2 linked regions of the Homo sapiens genome follow. The protein of the gene in region 2 binds, or shares a complex with, the protein of the main gene of each other region. Each region holds a gene or a part of one and is shown on either strand. Other genes may lie near its edges. A codon is read from its position in the direction of its gene.

Region 1 (3,746 bases), on a different chromosome or scaffold from region 2:
AGGGCCTGTCCATGGTCCCCACCCAGAGGCCCCAGGCATGCACTCCCCACAGTGCCCGAGGCTGCAGTGTAGACTCCTGACCTCCAGTGGGAGGCAACTCGGACAAGGGTGGGAGGCCCCTTCTCCGCTCCCACCAAGAAAGCCCAAGAGTCCAGCCCCACAATGGCAGGAAGCCATTCATTTTTTTCTAAAAACAGTGGACACAAGTGGGGTGGCCTCAACTTTTGCTGCTGTGCCAATCAAACCTCAGGGAAAGAAAATAATTGTGAGGAATTTAATTCACTTGATTTGGCTTCATTTTCTTGATCTGTTAAAATAATCCTCCCATAGCCCCCCTGCCAGCCCCATCTCTGCACGAACCTACCCCGACCTTTCTGTTGGAACTGAAACCTGTTGGTGTAAATGAGAAGCCATGGCTGCCCTGGGTTTGGAGCTCAGAGGCATCTAGAAGGCAGGACAAGAAATCTGTTGGCCAAAGGGCAAGACCTGCCACCTCTGTGGAACTGCAGGGCCTGCCTTGAGACCAGGTTCCCCAGCTCCCAGAATGGCTGTGGGGACAGGACAACGGGGAGGGAAGGGAGCTGGCACAGGCCCCGGAGAAGGGGCAAGACCCTGTGCAGCGGGGACAGAGGCTGACAACCTGTCGGAGAGAATGAGCAACGCGGAGCCCACTCCACTGGCACGGGCTGGCCGCAGACGCAGCTAGAACGTGCCGCTGTCTCCTCAGGACGCTGCTTGCAGTAAGATGGGCTGGGGAGGGGCGCGGGGAGGGTCTGTTGCAGCAGGCTGGCATCAAGAAGGCAAAAGCCAGAGCAGGACGTGGTGTGCGGCCGGGTAGAGCAATATACACTATGTACAGACTCTGCGAATCAGTCCGCTCGGCGGGCAGCGTCCTCGCCAGGTCCAGGCGCCTTGGCCGGGGAGGAGGGGGCACCAGTAGGGAAGGGCGGGCTGGTCCAACACCTTCTTGGCACTCGAGGAGGGCGGGGGAGGAAGTGCCGATGGCACCTCCCGATACAAAAACATGGAGAGAATTCTTTAAATAACGGCACGAAACTGAGACTGTCCCCCGAGGAACCTCCGTGGGCCTCGGGCTGGGGGAGGGACCGCAGTGCAGTCTCTGCAGTGGACTGGGTGCCATTAGCAGCAGCGTTTCTTTCGTTTACTGTTCTTCGTGAGCTTCACCACATCGTTCTGTTGTTGCTGCTGCTGTTTTGCCAGGTTGTCTTTCTTTGCTCGGAGGACCAGCTCCGTGATGCAGTTGAACATCTGTGGAGAGGAAAGAGGAAGGGCCCGCCTCAGACCTGGCCAGGAGGCCCCTGCTGGCCTGCACGGCTGCCTCCCCGCCTTCCGGGGCCCAGCTCTTTCTACCTGTGCATTTTTGGTATGTATGTCTTCAAAGCCTATTCTAGAAGGAGGTGGTGAATTATTTTATTTAAAGGTCAAAAAGGAACAACATTGCTAAAACCCCACCTCTACAAAAAACACAAAAATTAGCCGGGAGTGGTGGTGCACACCTGTAGTCCCAGCTACTTGAGAAGCTAAGGTGGGAGGATTACTTGAGCCCAGGAGATCGAGACTACAGTGGGCTGTGAACACACCACTGCACTCCAGCCTGGATGACAGAGTTAGACCCTGACTCAACAAATAAATAAGTCTGAAAAAAGGAACACCATCAGAGGCCCATGAGCTGTGTGGACTTGGGGAAGTCAATCTCACAGGGGTTTTCCAGTCCTTCTTTTAGAGAGACCAACCCCTTTCCTTCAGCTGGAATCTTTTTTTTTTTTTTTTTTTTGTGAGATGGAGTCTCGCTCTGTCGCCCAGGCTGGAGTGCAGTGGCGTGATCTCAGCTCACTGCAAACTCTGCCTCCCTGGTTCACACCATTCTCCTGCCTCAGCCTCCCGAGTAGCTGGGACTACAGGCGCCCACCACCACGCCCGGCTAATTTTTTTGTATTTTTAGTAGAGACAGGGTTCCACCATGTTAGCCAGGATGGTCTCGATCTCCTGACCTCGTGATCCGCCCGCCTCGGCCTCCCAAAGCACTGAGATTACAGGCGTGAGCCGGCGCGCCCGGCCCAGCTGGAATCTTATGACATGACAGATGAAAGTGCCCCTGCTGTTCACGGACATAGGTGACCCGGGGTCTGCCTGCTCCACGCCACTTCATGGCATGTGGGGCCCAGAGAGGTGAAGTCACCGCCCAAGGTCATACCAGCCTTGCCCACAGGCCCAGGTGGATGGGCCAGCATCAGGACACCAGCCTGACTTACAAAGGAGCCTGTGCCCGCTGCTGTGTGGCCCCTGTGCCCTGAAGCAGTGGGATCCTCGACTTCCACAGGCCTCTGGGCTCCACACAGCACAAGGCGGCCAATGAGGCAGAGGACTGGAGTGGAAACTGTGCTTGGCTTTGGTGTGGGACAGAGGTTTACTCAGTCTCTTACTAGCCAGGTGGTGGTCCTTGAGTTACTTCAACACTTGGAGCCTCAGTTTCCCTATTTGAAATGTGGGTATAATTGTACCTACCTCAGAGGACTGTTGAACTATGAACTAAGATCGTTAAAGGGCCTGGCACATAGTAGGCACTCAATAAATGGCAGTTACTATGACATTTTCTGTTGGTCATTTAGATGCCTCAAGCAGGCCAGCAGCATGGAGAAGGCGGCCACGGGTGTGTGGCAGAGCCACAGTGGCCCAGGGCCTCACCTCTTCCACGTTGACATTCTCCTTGGCGCTGGTCTCGAACAACTGGATGCCCATCTGCCCGGCGAATTTGTAGGCATCTTCCGTCTCCACCACCTTCCGCTCAGGGTCGTCATTCTTATTACCCACTTCAAACGAAGGCAGAGTCAGCGCAGCCCTGAGGGGCGCAGCCGGCTGCCTCTCTCCCACCCAACCCCGACCCGGCCCTGAGTGCAGCCTCACCTAATATTCGGCACACATCATCACAGTTCTGGTTGATTTCGTGAAGCCACCGCTTGACGTTGACAAAGGACTCGGCACTGGTGACGTCGTAAACCACAATGACCCCGTGGGTCCCCCGATAATACCTGCAGGGCCAGAGTGTGCGGCAGCATGTCAACCCCGACAGGAGTCACCCCCTTGCCGGGACCCACCTGCCCACGTCAGGACACTGACCCGGAAAAGGTGAGGGTGGCCCTGGAGCCTGGGCTCTCACTCAGCCTCGGCAGATGCCCCCGAGCCACAACAGGCCAGCAGGAGAGGCTACTGCGGCAGCACTGACTCCCCCTGCCCGCCCGGGGCACCAACAGGGCGGGAGGGCCAGCCCCTGGGCAGCAGAGCAGGTCTGAGGAGTCACCTCCTGCTGTTCAGAGTCTGCTGCAGGCTTGAAACATCTTTGAAGTTCTTGCTTTATTTTGGGAAATCAGGCAGTTTTTGTATTTGACATCATGTTATCACTGTCTTTGAACATTCAAAAAAATATTTGCTCCTCAAACCTGTTTTAGAGAACCTTTCCAAGAAGCCACACCATCATGACGCCCTGGCAAAGTCTGTGCCCCTCCCCTGGGGCAGGTAGGCACCTCCCTTCCTGCTACTCTTGGCTCATCTGTGCAGGTGGCAGGAAAAGCATGGAAGCCACACAAGCATCCAGGGATGGCTGGGGAGAGGGCGCCCAGCAAAGCCATCACCCCAAACATGCAGAGCCCAGGGCCAGCCAGGAAGGCCAGAAGGAAGGGGAGGCCCAACTCTCCTCTCCAGACCCCATGTCCCCATTCATCCCAGTG
Region 2 (3,746 bases):
TTAACCTATCCCTTGGATACTGGCAAGAACAGAAAGGCCTGGCATATCAGTGATTGTCTTTATAGAAGAAGAAGGTTGAATGTTGGGGAATAGCTATGTGAAAATCTCCCATAAGCTCATTATGATAGATTAATGGTTTCTTATGTCATAGCTTTATTTTTTAAAAATTGCAATAAAATGCACATAAAATTTATCATCTTAACTTTTTTTTTTTTTTTTTTTTTGAGACTGAGTCTCGCTCTATTGCTCAGGCTGGAGTGCAGTGGTGCAATCTCAGCTCACTGCAACCTCTGCCTCCCGGGTTCAAGTGATTCTCGTCCCTCAGTCTCCCAGGTAGATGGGATTACAGGTGCCCGCTACCATGCCTGGTTAATTTTTGTATTTTTAGTAAAGACGAGGTTTCACCATGTTGGCCAGGCTAGTTTCAAACTCCTGACCTCAAGTGATCCACCCCCCTCGGCCTCCCAAAGTGCTGGGATTGCAGGCGTGAGCCACCGTGCCTGGCCCATCTTAACCATTTTTAAGTGTACAGTTTAGTGGCATTAAGTATATTCCCATTAGTGTGCTATCTTTACTGCCATTCATCCACAGAACTCTTTTTATCTTGCAAAACTGAAACTCTACCTATTAAATAATTTTTTCTTTTTCTGCCAAGAGCTCATTTTTATTGATGTGTATGTGTTTGCTTTTCAGAAGGAGAAAGGCAAGATTCTTCTATGTTTCTTGACTCGAAACATCTTAATCCAGGACTTCAGCTTTATAGGGCGTCATATGAAAAAAACCTTCCTAAAATGGCTGAGGCTTTGGCTCATGGTGCAGACGTGAACTGGGCCAATTCAGAGGAAAACAAAGCGACACCACTTATTCAGGCTGTATTAGGGGTATGCGTTTATACAATGACATTTTCAGTAGCAATCAAATATTTAAAAAAAATCATAATATGTTCTGAACTGGCTTTAGTATTGTCTTTGCTTCAAGAGATGGGTTAGAAAATAGAAGGAACCTCTGTGCTATTAATAGTAGTGGTTTCTGAGCACCACTTCGGTTGTTTCAAGTTTTTTTGCAGTGGAAGAGAATTCCGATAATGAAAGTATATAATGTGTTTTGCTAGTTCACAAACTGCAAATGAATCTCTATTAGAATTAGTTCTTGGGAAGAAAATAATATAATTTATAATTTCTCTGCCTTGGCTGAGGGATATTTTTTGTTTTGGAGAGAAGGAAATGGAAATGCTATTTGAGTAACGAAAACCAATTGTTTTTAAAAAGAAATGTATTGTTGTTTCTTGTTATTTGCTTTTGTCTATAGTTATCCTCTTTTTTCCTTTAAGGGCTCTTTGGTGACGTGTGAGTTCCTCCTACAGAATGGTGCTAATGTCAACCAAAGAGATGTCCAAGGGCGGGGACCATTGCACCATGCCACCGTCTTAGGGCACACAGGGTAACTGCAGTGCTTTCATATTTAAGGAGACTTTATTTGAAAAATTATTTTGAATTAATGTTTTAGTTTTTCTTAGGTTAAAGTTTTCAGGTAGTGTTTGTAAAGAGATGTGTTCCATGACTTATTTTGTCACGATGGAATTTGAAAGTTAAAAAAAATCTCTTTCAGAAAAAGCTACTATTGGTTTTCAGATACAAAAATTTCAAGGCTTACTTTGACCTTAACTTGTCATTAAATAGATCAGTTTTAGTACTTAACTTTCTCTGTTATTAAAATTGTGATTTTGTCAGACAACTTAAGCCTGTGTTTGTGTTTATGTATGTATGTACATATACATTATTTCCATAGCATGCACACACATAACCTATTTAAAGATAATTTGATGACTTTGTAATTTTTAGTTTTTTCCACAGGGTAGCTAAAGTCAAATTCTAAACTAAATTCTTACTTTGGGTTGTTGACATTGTGTCTTCTGGAGCGATAGTAAGATTCACAGAACAATAAAGCCTTGAAAATGGACTTTCTATTATTAGGAAGTATACATGAAAGAAAATGCTGGCTTTATGTGAAAAATTTGTGTCTTAAACGCTTGTTTCTTAATAAGATATCTCAGGGTATCCGATTATTATGTGGTGGATAAGCAAGAAGCTCTTATTTTGAAATATTTTTAAAATAGCATCTTCATTTATTTAGAGACAGGGTCTCGCCCTGTTGCCTAGGCAGGAGTGCACTGGTGCAATCATAGCTCACTACAGCCTTGAACTCCTAGGCTCAAGCGATCCTCCCCTAGTAGCTTGGGTTATAGGTGTGAGCCACTGTGTCTGGCTATTTTTATTTATTTATTTATTTATTTATTATTTATTTATTTATTTATTTATTTATTTATTTATTTTGAGATAAAGTCTTGCTCTGTCACCCAGGCTGGAGTGCAGTAGCACGATCTCAGCTCACTGCAACCTCCGCCTCCTGGGTTCAAGCGATTCTCCTGCCTTAGCCCCCTGAGTAGCTGGGATTGTAGGTGTGCACCACCATGCCTGGCTAATTTTTTTGTATTTTTAGTAGAGACGAGGTTTCATCATGTTGGCCAGGCTGGTCTTGAACTCCTGACCTCAGGTGATCCACCTGCCTCAGCCTCCCAAAATGCTGGGATTACAGGTATGAGCCACTGCGCACGGCCATGTCTGGCTATTTTTATCATGGCTTGTTTTCTTCTATCAGCAAAGAGATTCAGTCAGATAACTTCATCGTTTAAACTTTCTACACTTAAAAAAGGTAGTATTTAAGGTAGTACTTAACTCATCCTTTGTATTTTCTTCTTTTTTTTTAAGAGATGGGAGTCTCACTATGTTGCTCACGTTGGAGTGTGGTGACTGTTCATAGGCACATTCATAGCTCACTACAGCCTTGAATTCTGGGGCTCAGGATCTTCATGCCTCAGCTTCCCAAGTGGCTGGGACTACAGGCATGCCCTGCCACTCCCGGCTAATTTTTAAATTTTTTTTAGAGACATTTTGCTATGTTGCTCAGGCTGGTCTTGAACTTCTGACCTCAAGTGATTCCCCCTACCTCTGCCTTCTGAGTAGCTGAGATTACAGGTGCTTACCTTGCCCAGCCATTATTTTCTTCTTAAACTATCAAAATTCTTTCCATTTTATTTCATAGACTCCATTTAGTTATTCTTTCATATTTTAGATTTCTTTTTCAGTTTATTCAAGTAATGAATATTTGCAAGTACAGCAAGCAGATTACTTCCCATTCTTTGCTGTTGTATTATTATTATGAAGTTTACATTGCCTTGGCTTTCTTCATTTTCAAATAATGACCTTGAGTGATCTTTTTTTCATTTAGGTTTATAGATACCTGTGCACATGTTTTTATGATATTCTTTTTTTTTTTTTTTTTGAGACGGAGTCTTGCTCTCGCCCAGGCTGGAGTGCAGTGGTGTGATCTCGGCTCACTGCAAGCTCCGCCTCCCGGGTTCACGCCATTCTCCTGCCTCAGCCTCCTGTGTAGCTGGGACTACAGGCGTCCGCCACCACACCCGGCTATGTTTTTTTTTTTTTAATTTTAGTAGAGACGGGGTTTCACCTTGTTAGCCAGGATGGTCTCGATCTCCTGACTTTGTGATCCGCACACCTTGGCCTCCCAAAGTGCTGGGATTACAGGCGTGAGCCACCACGTCTGGCCTTTTTATGATATTCTTTGAGGGTAGGGACCACAACTTATATATCCACCATGCTATCTATATAGCACCAGATTAAATAAGATAATGTATGCAAAAATACCTTGAGACTTGTGAAATGTTG

What was found. Proteins that work in one complex are often made in the same cells at the same time.
Region 1: the proteins of ACAP2 (region 2) and RAB35 are in contact, whole or in part, in a crystal structure (PDB 6IF3), measured with the Homo sapiens proteins. Residues at the interface, in NP_036419.3 of Homo sapiens: Val715, Ala718, Asn719, Ala720, Asp721, Val723, Thr724, Arg727, Leu728, Arg730, Met731, Glu734, Met735, Ser738, Glu748, Thr749, Gln751, Arg755, Asp756, Gln759, Met760; in NP_006852.1 of Homo sapiens: Arg3, Asp4, Tyr5, Leu8, Ile41, Gly42, Val43, Asp44, Phe45, Ile47, Lys58, Gln60, Trp62, Phe70, Arg71, Thr72, Ile73, Thr76, Arg79 (codon at 3,043).

The regions. Positions count from the first base shown.
Region 1 is NC_000012.12:120,096,105-120,099,850, forward strand, and holds part of RAB35 (ras-related protein Rab-35), read right to left. Parts: intron 3,051-3,746; coding exon 2,926-3,050; intron 2,832-2,925; coding exon 2,707-2,831; intron 1,270-2,706; coding exon 1,141-1,269; 3' UTR 1-1,140. UniProt on the Homo sapiens protein: The small GTPases Rab are key regulators of intracellular membrane trafficking, from the formation of transport vesicles to their fusion with membranes.
Region 2 is NC_000003.12:195,289,400-195,293,145, reverse strand, and holds part of ACAP2 (arf-GAP with coiled-coil, ANK repeat and PH domain-containing protein 2), read left to right. Parts: intron 1-693; coding exon 694-881; intron 882-1,330; coding exon 1,331-1,440; intron 1,441-3,746. UniProt on the Homo sapiens protein: GTPase-activating protein (GAP) for ADP ribosylation factor 6 (ARF6). Doesn't show GAP activity for RAB35.